Linked DNA regions of Homo sapiens. The protein of the gene in region 1 purifies or fractionates together with the protein of each later gene. This does not show direct contact. Each region holds a gene or a part of one and is shown in the gene's direction. Other genes may lie near its edges. The genes, in order: AP1S1, MYRF and PTPRF.

Region 1 (3,747 bases):
TACCTGTAATCCCAACACTTTGGGAGGCTGAGGAGTGTGGATACCTTGAGTCCAGGAGTCCCAGACCAGCTTGGGTAGCATGACAATACCCTGTGTCTACAAAACATACAACTATTAGCTGGCTGTGGTGGTGCATGCCTGTAGTCCTAGCTACTTGGGAGACTGAAGTGGGAGGATCGCTTGAGCTCAGGAGGTGGAGGCTGCAGTGAACTATGATCATGCTACTACACTCCAGCCTGGGCAACAGAGTAAGACCCTGTCTCAAAAAAAGAAGAAAAAAAAAAAGAAAGAAAGAAAAGAAAAACTTAAGACAGTGTGTTCCTCTGTTTGCTTTCTGAGGACGCCCTACTCCGTAAGGGTGTAGCTTTCAATAAACTCTCTCTTCTCATCGCACTCTACGACTTGCTTTGGGTTCCTTCCTGCATGAGATCCAAGAATTCTCTCTTGGGGTCTGGATCGGGACCCCTTTTTCCAGTAACATGTAGACACACACACACATTCAGTTTAAAAGCCCATATTACAACGTACATCCACCTCATCTTCACACTGAGATTTGGGTGACATCTGTCCCTTTTTGAGTTTTGACCCAAGTTAACCTTTTAAGACGCTCTTTATTTCTTCCCCTTTTGCCTCAGTTCACGTTCCTCCCCCTTCTCCTTACATGCCTTTTATAGCAGCCTCTCCTTTTCTCTTTTATTCTTTTTCTACACATTTCTCTTACTGTAAAATCAGAAGCCAGGCGCGGTGGCTCACGCCTGTAATCCCAGCAGTTTGGGAAACCGAGGCGGGAGGGTCTCTTGAACCCAAGAGTTCGAGACCAGCCTGGGCAACATAGTAAGACCCCCGTCTCTACTAAAAAAAAATTAAAAATTAGCTGGGCATGACGGTGTGCGTCTGTAGTCCCAGCTACTCAGGAGGCTGAGGCGGGAGGATCGCTTGAGGCCAGGAGTTCAAGGCTGCAGAGAGTCACGATCCCACCACTGCACTCCAACCTGGGTGACGCGGCCAGACCCTGTCTCTAAAAAGAAAAAAACTAGAGGGGTGTATCTATCACGCTTTCAATAGATATTCAGCTTGGGTTCTATACTTTTCTCATGACCCTTTGTCTTTCTGTTTTCCAGGTCACTCCTCCTCCCCTACACTTAATTCCCACCCTGCTCCCTTTTCACGGCCCACTCCCCTTCCAGGAGTCCTGCCTGCTGCTTCGAACTCCAATGATCGTCCCATTCACCTCTCACCCCTTTTCCCGCCTTTTTGCCCCACAAGGCTCCAAAGCGCGAGGACCTTATTGTCCTCCTCCCCCATCCTCCAACCAGCCCACAGGACAGCCGCGTTACCATGACGACCGGGCTCCTAGAAGCTGCAGTCAAGGACCTGGTTGCCATGGTTTCCGCTTCTCCGCCTCCAGCCCCGCCCGCGCTCCCCGCGGCGTCGGCGCCTGCGCAGTGCGTGGCGCGCCGGGAGTCAGAGCCTGGGCGGGACGGGGCGGGGCTTCGGGCGAGAGGGAGGGCAGCAGGAGAAAGGATAAGAAAGGGAGTGGGACTGGCGCCTACGGTGGCCGAAGTGGGACGCGCCGAGCCGGAGGCTGCAGGATGGTAGGCTGTGCGAAGAGGGAGGGGAGGGGGAAGCGAGGGGCGTGGGCTGCACCTGCGGGGGTCCTCGGGGGCCGCCCTCGGGGTGAACCGCCCTGTCTTCCCTCTGGTCCTCAGAGGCCTCCCTTGCCTCGGCGGGTGGGCGAGCCGGGCTCGGGAGGAAGAGGGGGAGGTGGCATTCGGGAGAGGGGCGGGGAGGGGGCGCATTTGCAGGGCGAGCGGGGGCTGACGAAGGGGCGGCGGGGCCGTCCCGAGCCGGGAGGGGCGCTCTGGTCTTGGCCCCTGGGGTCCCTCGATCCCCGCTGCAGGGAAGCCGCCCGAAGCAGAGGGTTGCGGGAGTCTCTTTGCTGAGGGAGGGAGCGGGGGTCACCAGTCACCGAGACCCCCTTCCCGGGCTGCACAGGCGGGAGCGGGGACCCGGGTGGGGAGAGGGGTGTGGGAGGGGAGTTTCCGGGTCGGAAAAGGGAGCGCCCTACTGCGTTCGTGGCCGTGCTTGCCTAGAGGCTGGGCCCAGGTAGGGAAGCGAAGTGGACTCGTGGTTTTTCTCCGAGGGACCCAGGCTTTGGGATCCCGGGCTCCGGGGCTCTCTGCCCCCCTTCCCATTCTCTTTCCGGAATCCAGGCCTTCCGTCTTCCTGCTTGCTCCCCACCCCCCTATTTGAGCGCCGCACGAGGCTCCCCAGCGCCCCTCTTTTCCCCTCCACCAAAAAAATCAGTTCTCCTGAATTCTGATTTTTCACTTACTAAGCTAGTACAGTGCCACACACCCAGGGATTCCAAGCCTGGGCATGTCCATGAATAGAAGAGCTACTGGGGTAAGGAGAAGACTCCAGGATGTGGCCCAGACCCCCCGGAACTGGGAAGCTGGGGTACACTGGGCAGTGAGGGTTCTGTCTTCCATCCCACTTGACCCAGCTTGCTGTCTGTTCTGCAGACATTCTTTTAGGGGAACCCCCTGGGTGGCGGGGCCCTAACTGAGGGAAATTGGTCACCTGGTGTCTGGGGAGGAGTGGGCGCTTAGCAGGAGGCACCCTAAAAGGAAGAAAAGTTAAAGAGAAATGTCGAAGACCAAATGCCTGGGTGCCTGCAGAGAGGAAGATAGGATTTGGGCATCTGCATACCCTGTGTGGTGTTGGAGATACATACTACAGAGGAGGATACCCCTGGGCATAGGCCTGGCACTGGAGGATGATATGTTTGGGAGATCATTAAGATCTTATGGCTATGATGGGGTGGAAAATTGAGGTAGCTTCTCCAGGGACAAAATACCAGATTTCAGCATGGTGATGGATAGAGAGAGGGTGGAAGAGAACAGGCATTTCTTTGGCGTCGGTTACTGTCGTCTTGTCACTGTGCTAGGCATTTTACTTACCTTTAGAAAGCAGACCAGAAAGCAAGAGGTCAGGGAATCATGGTAATAATAGTAATAACTAACGGCCGGGCGCAGTGGCTCATGCCTTAATGCCAGCACTTTGGGAGGCCTAGGTGGGTGGATCACCTGAGGTCGGGAGTTCGAGACCAGGGCCTGGCCAACATGGTGAAACCACATCTCTACTAAAAATACAAATATTAGCCGGGCGTGATGGCACGTGACTGTAATCCCAGCTACTCAGGAGGCTGAGGCAGGAGAATCGCTGGAACTTGGGAGGCGGAGATTGCACTGAACAGTGATTGCGCCACTGCACTCCAGCCTGGGCGACAGAGAGAGACTCTGTCTCAAAAATAATAATAATAATAGCTAACATGTTATACTGCCTGCCTGTGCTAGGGACTTGCATATATCAAATCATTTAGTCTCACCTAACAACTGTGCAAGGCAGGTACAATGTCCATTTTACACATAAGGAAACTGAGGCCCAGAGACTTACAGTAGTAATTGGGCCAAGGCCTTGCATAACTAGTAGAGCCAGGATTTGAACCCAGCTGACAGACTCAGAAGCTCTGACTTCCCCCTGCTGGTGGAAACACCCAGCCTTGAGAGCAAGGGGCTGGATGTTGGAAGAAAGTAGAGAAGAATTAGCTGGAGATAAGTTTGGGGAATGTGTGGTTACCCTCGGTTCTGCCCTCCCATCCCCCACAGATGCGGTTCATGCTATTATTCAGCCGGCAGGGAAAACTGCGGCTGCAAAAATGGTACCTGGCCACTTCGGACAAGG
Region 2 (3,647 bases), on another chromosome or scaffold:
GGTACGTGATCATGCGCATGTCAGTGGATACCTGACTGCAGGGTGTGCCCTTACATATATGTGTGTGTGTTGGCAGTGTGCCTGCGTGGGGCCACGCCGGTGTGTAGGCACAGATGGGCACAGGTGACCCTGGTGGAGACCTGTGTCCACCCCAAGCTGCAGGGTCTCTACCTGGCACCTGGTGGCCTGCCTGCCCTGGTCCCTGTGGGAGAGAGTAGGAACAGGTCGCAGCTGCTGGCCTCGGTGCTGTTGGACCTGGCTTTGGAGCATCTTGGGGCTGTGAGTTCAGCCTTATGTTGACCTGAGGACAGGGCGGCAGCTTCATGGGGACTTGGAGTGGATGTAGCCATAGCCCAAGGGTGGCTAAAGATTCTGGGTCTCCTAGAAGAGAGGGTTCTCCGGCTGGGCCAGTGGCTCATGCCTGTAATCCCAGCACTTTGGGAGGCCGAGGCAGGTGGATCACCTGAGGTCAGGAGTTCGAGACCAGCCTGGCCAACATAGTGAAATCCCGTCTCTACAAAAAATACAACAATTAGCCAGGCGTGGTGGCAGGCGCCTGTAGTCCCAGCTCCTTGGGAGGCTGAGGTGGGAGAATCACTTGAACTCAGGAGGCGGAAGTTGCAGTGAGCCAAGATTGTGCCACTGCACTCCAGCCTGGGCAACAGAGTGAAACTTTGTCTCAAAAAGAAAGGTAAAAAAAAAAGAGAGGGGTCTCTGTAGGCAGCCTGTGGGGGCTCTTCTGCATTTTTGGTAAGAAGCTGGGAGAGAACAAAGACTACTGTGACTCAGATCGAAGAACCTGATAGAAAAACGGCTCAAGAGCCCCATCTTTGTCAGGTGTGGCTGCTGGGCCCAAGCTAACTGAGATTTGATGCGGAGAGGCAAAGGGTTGCTTGCACAAGCAAACATCTGACCTGAAGGCATTTTGACTAAGACGGCTCTGGTCACAAGTTGAAGCCTGAAGCAGGGCAGCTAGCAGTTATAGATTTTTTTTTTTTGAGACAGAGTCTCACTCTGTCGCCCAGGCTGGAGTGTGGTGGCACGATCTCGGCTCACTGCAACCTCCGCCTCCCGGTTTCAAGTGATTCTCCTGCCTCAGCCTCCTGAGTAGCTGGGATTACAGGCACGTGCCACCATGCCTGGCTAATTTTTGTATTTTTAGGAGAGACAGCGTTTCACCATGTTGATCAAGCTGGTCTCGAACTCCTGACCTTGTGATCTGCCCACCTCGGCCTCCCAAAGTGCTGGGATTACAGGTGTGAGCCACCGCGCCTGGCCATAGATCATATTAATAAAGAGAGAAAGCCCAAACCAAAGGAGGTGAGGCCACTGTGCCTTGCCCCCATGTAAACTGGTTGGGAGATGAGCCACAGCACTGGGGGCCCTCTGTGACTGGGGCGATGGGGAGGGGCTGCCAGGGCAGGCAGGGAGGCAGTCGCAGAAGGCTGACCCACTGGAAGGGATGGCTGGGGCCGAGGCCCGGAGGCTGGACTGTGCTGTGCATGTGTAAGAATAGCAGCAGAGTGCTGACCATGCCTCAGAGGGACTTAGGAGAAGGTGAGGATGTCCCTCGGAGGCTCTGGAGCACGTGTGCAGCAAGGCGGAGGGGCCTGGGGGAGAGGGGACAGCCTGGGCGGAGGTGTGCAGGCAGGAAAGGAGATGGGAGTCCTAAGAGAGATGGAAACAGGGCGGTTCACCCTGACTGCGGAATGGCCTCCTGGGGGTCACCTCGTTTAAGGTTCACTCCATGGCAGGGATTCGTGCTCCATCTGATGGAGAAGGAAGCCAGGGCTCAGGTCACTTGCTGAGGGTCATAGCCATCAAGTGGGAAGTCCACATTAGAAACCAGGCCTCTTTGACTCTGGAGGTCTCTCTGGGCATCGTGGTTATGCCCAGGTGGGCTGTCCCTTGACTGCTACCACCCTGGCCCTCAGCTGCTGCCTGAAGCTAGGGCATCCTTCAGGTTCAGATGCTCTGAGAGGACACTCAGAGCAACTGGGGTTGTCGGAAATAGGCCTGGGCCCTGGTGTCCTCTGCACCCCAGGTTCAGATCCACCAAGCCTGGCCAGCATCCTCGGGCCCCGGCCCACCCTACCCACAGCCACGTGGCTGACGGGATTTCCGCCATGTTTGGGGCATGAATTGACAAGTGCCTCATTGACGGGGCAGGGGAGGGGGTGGGCAGGGCACAAGCCTCCCACTGTGCCGTGTCCCCACCCTCCCCCGTTCCCCGGGACAATGGCCGAGACTCAGCCAACGGCCACAGCTGGTGGGGGGGGGGGCACATAAGCACAAGGAGGGGCGGAAGGGAGGGGTCCTGGGTGGAGGGACCACCTGGGCCCCTGCCTGCTCTCATCCTGCACCTGGCTTGGGTGCCCTCCGTTCCTTTCCTGGCCAGCTGGGGTGGCCTTAAGGAGACGAGGAGAGAAGAGCGGAGCGGAGGGGAGGGGGCTGCCTTCCCATAGTCTGGATCGCAGCCTGCCTGGGAAGGGGCAGTGTCTGGTTCCTGTTCCAGGCAGGTAATAAAGGGCCTAATTAATGAGGAGCAGCTGAGGCACACAGCTCAGCAGGGCAGGGGCAGGACCTGGAGGGGCCCCAGGTAGCCCCGGCCCTGGCCACAGCATGGCCTGGCCGAGGTCCCTCACTGGCCACTTGGCTCATCCACTCCGTGAACATTTCCTGGGTGCCTGCTGTGTGCTGGGATACTATATCCCAGAGAGACAGAACAGGGCAGCGCTCATAGCCCAGTGCCTGCCCCTGTAAGCTATGGGCACATGCCCATCCTTTCTGAGCCTCAGTTTCCTCATCTATAAAATGAAGAAAAAGAAAATCACCTACCTTGTAGGTTGGGATGAGAATTCAATATGAGCCATGTAAAGTGCATGGCACAGGGCTGGGCACAGAGTGGCCACTGGGCGAGTGAGCTGTGGGTGGTGGGCGGGTGGTGGACAGACACTCATCCTGCCCAGCGGGGTGTGTGTAGGCGGGAAGGTAAAGAACTGATGAGGAATTACAACGCCCCTGCCCATCCCTTGCTAAACAGAATGGGAGAGTCAGAGATGGCCTCTTGGGGGAATTTACATTTAAGACAAAACCTAAAGCCTGAATAGGACCTGGCTTTCTCAGGCTTAGGGAACAGCATGGAATGGCATGTGTGAAGGCCTTGATGTGGGATGGAGGATGGAAAGGAGGCAAGGGCTGACCACGGAGAGGAGGGGAGGCAGGGGACCTGGGGAAGGAGAAAAGGCTGTCGGGGGCAGGCAGGGGACCATGTCAGGCCTTGGACTGCCAGAGGGCTCCGGGTGTCTCCCCAGCAGTGGGAAGTTGTTGAAGGGTTTGAGAAGGGAAGGACAGAGATGCTGGTTTGTGAGCTCATGGTGCTGTTTTCGGGTTATTGGGCCCTGGGCAGCCTCGGGCAGCCTCTGGCGGGCCCGGCTTCCCTTCTCTCAGAGAGGTCTTGAGGATCAGAACGAGCCATATGGCCCATGTTCCGCTTCCTGCCTGGCAGGTACCCCTGCTTGGGCTCCAGTGATGTTCTGGGGCTCTTTTGGGAGCAGTGGGGAGGGGCGCTCCCGAGAGTGTGCCCATGGGACCCTGCCCCTGTCCTGGGTTCTTGGGGGCTCTATCCCAGCTTCGGCAAGCCCCCA
Region 3 (3,289 bases), on another chromosome or scaffold:
CCTGCCCGAGACCATGGGTGATTTCTGGAGGATGGTGTGGGAACAGCGCACGGCCACTGTGGTCATGATGACACGGCTGGAGGAGAAGTCCCGGGTGAGGCTGCAGGGCCCTGCCAGGAGGCGGGTGGGAAATGCCCAGCCACAAGGTGATACAGGGCACCTTCTTCTGTGCCGCTTTCTTCTGTGGAGGAAGTCGCTCAAGTGATCCCCAGATGCTATTGTTACTGGGGGTATTATGCTCCCCAAATACTGGGTGTTTCTGGGATACAGCATGTTCCCCACATGCTAGTGGGTTCCTTAAGATGTTAATATGTTTCACCAAATGCTGTCATTTTCGGAGAATGTTAATGTGTTCCCCAGTTGCTGGCGTGTTCCCGGGGTATTCATGTGTTCCCCAGATGCTGGAGTGTTCCTGGGGCATTAACACATCTCCTAAGTTAATTAGTGGAAAGAGCTGCTGTTATCTGTTTTTGGACTGCAAAGCATTGACTGGAACGTAAAATTTACAGAGCTTGAAAATGGCACATAAACGTTATGGGTAAATTTGGCAGAAAATGTGCCTGGTGCGATCTGGCGTTGAATAAATAATTTTCAATTATGACCCTTATTCCACTAGCTAGGGCAGGGCGGTGACATAGCTTGAGGACCTGATGTGGCTTGTGGAGGACAGGGGGCAATGGATCTGAGAGCTCAGGGCTGGGGGGCTTTGTAGCCAGAAAGGCTACAGCCAGGGAGTTGACCAGCCTCCACCCTGCTTCTGCCCGTCTGAGCCTGTGGGCTTCCTTCAGCCTGCCCTGCTCATCCTCCTGCAGGTAAAATGTGATCAGTACTGGCCAGCCCGTGGCACCGAGACCTGTGGCCTTATTCAGGTGACCCTGTTGGACACAGTGGAGCTGGCCACATACACTGTGCGCACCTTCGCACTCCACAAGGTATAGCCTTTCCCCAGTGCATATCTCTTACCCAGACACTGTAAGGACAGTGGCCTGGGTGTGGTGTGCTGGGTCGGGGGGAAGCTGGAGCCTGGGTGTTGGAGGGTCGGAGGCTCAGGTGTGTGAGTGATGTGATGATCCATGTTATGGGAACAGTGCTAGGAGCTTCAGGCTACTCTGTGTGGCTTCTGAGTCCCATGGGGAAGTGGCGGGTATGGCCTCAGCATCAGGTCATTCAGTCCTGAGTCTATGGCAGGTAGGCTCCTAGTCGCCAGTATGTCCCCACTTTGTCCCCCAGAGTGGCTCCAGTGAGAAGCGCGAGCTGCGTCAGTTTCAGTTCATGGCCTGGCCAGACCATGGAGTTCCTGAGTACCCAACTCCCATCCTGGCCTTCCTACGACGGGTCAAGGCCTGCAACCCCCTAGACGCAGGGCCCATGGTGGTGCACTGCAGGTGAGAGGGTACAGTGCCACCCAGAGGGGTGGGTGGGGTGGGAGGTGGGGGCGCCTGTGCCTCAAGCTGAGCCCGTGTCCTGCAGCGCGGGCGTGGGCCGCACCGGCTGCTTCATCGTGATTGATGCCATGTTGGAGCGGATGAAGCACGAGAAGACGGTGGACATCTATGGCCACGTGACCTGCATGCGATCACAGAGGAACTACATGGTGCAGACGGAGGACCAGTACGTGTTCATCCATGAGGCGCTGCTGGAGGCTGCCACGTGCGGCCACACAGAGGTGCCTGCCCGCAACCTGTATGCCCACATCCAGAAGCTGGGCCAAGTGCCTCCAGGGGAGAGTGTGACCGCCATGGAGCTCGAGTTCAAGGTGGGGCTCGGGTGGGCCTGCTTGGCTCCAGGGCCTAGACTGGGTCATGCAGATGACCCCCACCCCCACAGGAAGCCTGGCCTGACCAATCCCTGCCTCTCAATAGTTGCTGGCCAGCTCCAAGGCCCACACGTCCCGCTTCATCAGCGCCAACCTGCCCTGCAACAAGTTCAAGAACCGGCTGGTGAACATCATGCCCTACGAATTGACCCGTGTGTGTCTGCAGCCCATCCGTGGTGTGGAGGGCTCTGACTACATCAATGCCAGCTTCCTGGATGGTTATAGGTCAGCATGCATGTCACTGCCCCACCATGCCCTACAGGGGCCTAGGCCTGTGCCTGGCTGGTGGGGGTGGGCAGCAGAGTAGGGCCAGCCTAGAAGACCAGAGAGGGCTGGGTAGAGCAGTGAGGACTTCCTGGAGGAGGGGTGATCTGAGCAGGGCCCCAAGGGGCTAGGCAGCCTAAGGGGAGACTCTAGGGGCAGCAGCACCTCCAGCATGTCCAGTCTTATGTCCACCCCAGACAGCAGAAGGCCTACATAGCTACACAGGGGCCTCTGGCAGAGAGCACCGAGGACTTCTGGCGCATGCTATGGGAGCACAATTCCACCATCATCGTCATGCTGACCAAGCTTCGGGAGATGGGCAGGGTGAGCCCACCCTTTCCCCCAGGGCCCCTGTCATACCTGGGAGAACACCAGCCACCCTTGGGGGAGCTGCCGCCTATGTTACTGTCTCCTTTGACACCCCAGCTGCTTGTCAGCATGGCCTCAGGCGCCCGTTATTACTACCTGAGGCATCTGTCCCAGAATCCTGTGAAGCCTGGCACCCCTCCCCTATTCCTTCTCACCTGATTATGGGGGCCCGACCCTCTGTCCACAGGAGAAATGCCACCAGTACTGGCCAGCAGAGCGCTCTGCTCGCTACCAGTACTTTGTTGTTGACCCGATGGCTGAGTACAACATGCCCCAGTATATCCTGCGTGAGTTCAAGGTCACGGATGCCCGGGTGAGTGAGTGCATTGAGTGTGTCCATAACGCTGCCTGTCCACACGCTGGGTGGATGGCTGCCTGCATGGTACCTTAGCTCAAGCTTCAGAAATCTGAGGCGGTGGGTGGGTATTAGGGTGTGAGCACATCTCCCCCTGTGGCCTCGGGTGCAGTGACACAGATGCATGCCTGTATCATGGTACTACCCTGGTCTAGTCCAGAGGGGTGGCTGCCTAAGGCACGAATTCTAATCATGTACCCCACCCACCTTTCCCAGGATGGGCAGTCAAGGACAATCCGGCAGTTCCAGTTCACAGACTGGCCAGAGCAGGGCGTGCCCAAGACAGGCGAGGGATTCATTGACTTCATCGGGCAGGTGCATAAGACCAAGGAGCAGTTTGGACAGGATGGGCCTATCACGGTGCACTGCAGGTGGGACTGGCCCCCTGGAGGGCTGGGGTGGGTGGGCCTGAAGGCCTGGCAGACCCACTGCATGAGGCAAGCAGGACTCCTGACCCAACTGTGTTTCTGAGCAGTGCTGGCGTG

Evidence for each region.
Region 2: the proteins of AP1S1 (region 1) and MYRF fractionate together in Homo sapiens (co-fractionation; one large-scale study listed by BioGRID). This does not show direct contact.
Region 3: the proteins of AP1S1 (region 1) and PTPRF fractionate together in Homo sapiens (co-fractionation; one large-scale study listed by BioGRID). This does not show direct contact.

Annotation. Positions count from the first base shown.
Region 1 is NC_000007.14:101,152,923-101,156,669, forward strand, and holds the start of AP1S1 (AP-1 complex subunit sigma-1A), read left to right. Parts: upstream 1-1,553; 5' UTR 1,554-1,592; coding exon 1,593-1,595; intron 1,596-3,671; coding exon 3,672-3,747. UniProt on the Homo sapiens protein: Subunit of clathrin-associated adaptor protein complex 1 that plays a role in protein sorting in the late-Golgi/trans-Golgi network (TGN) and/or endosomes.
Region 2 is NC_000011.10:61,758,989-61,762,635, forward strand, and holds part of MYRF (myelin regulatory factor isoform 2 precursor), read left to right. Parts: intron 1-3,647.
Region 3 is NC_000001.11:43,617,818-43,621,106, forward strand, and holds part of PTPRF (receptor-type tyrosine-protein phosphatase F isoform 1 precursor), read left to right. Parts: coding exon 1-94; intron 95-812; coding exon 813-932; intron 933-1,230; coding exon 1,231-1,385; intron 1,386-1,470; coding exon 1,471-1,756; intron 1,757-1,862; coding exon 1,863-2,041; intron 2,042-2,277; coding exon 2,278-2,404; intron 2,405-2,636; coding exon 2,637-2,762; intron 2,763-3,020; coding exon 3,021-3,175; intron 3,176-3,279; coding exon 3,280-3,289. UniProt on the Homo sapiens protein: Possible cell adhesion receptor. It possesses an intrinsic protein tyrosine phosphatase activity (PTPase) and dephosphorylates EPHA2 regulating its activity.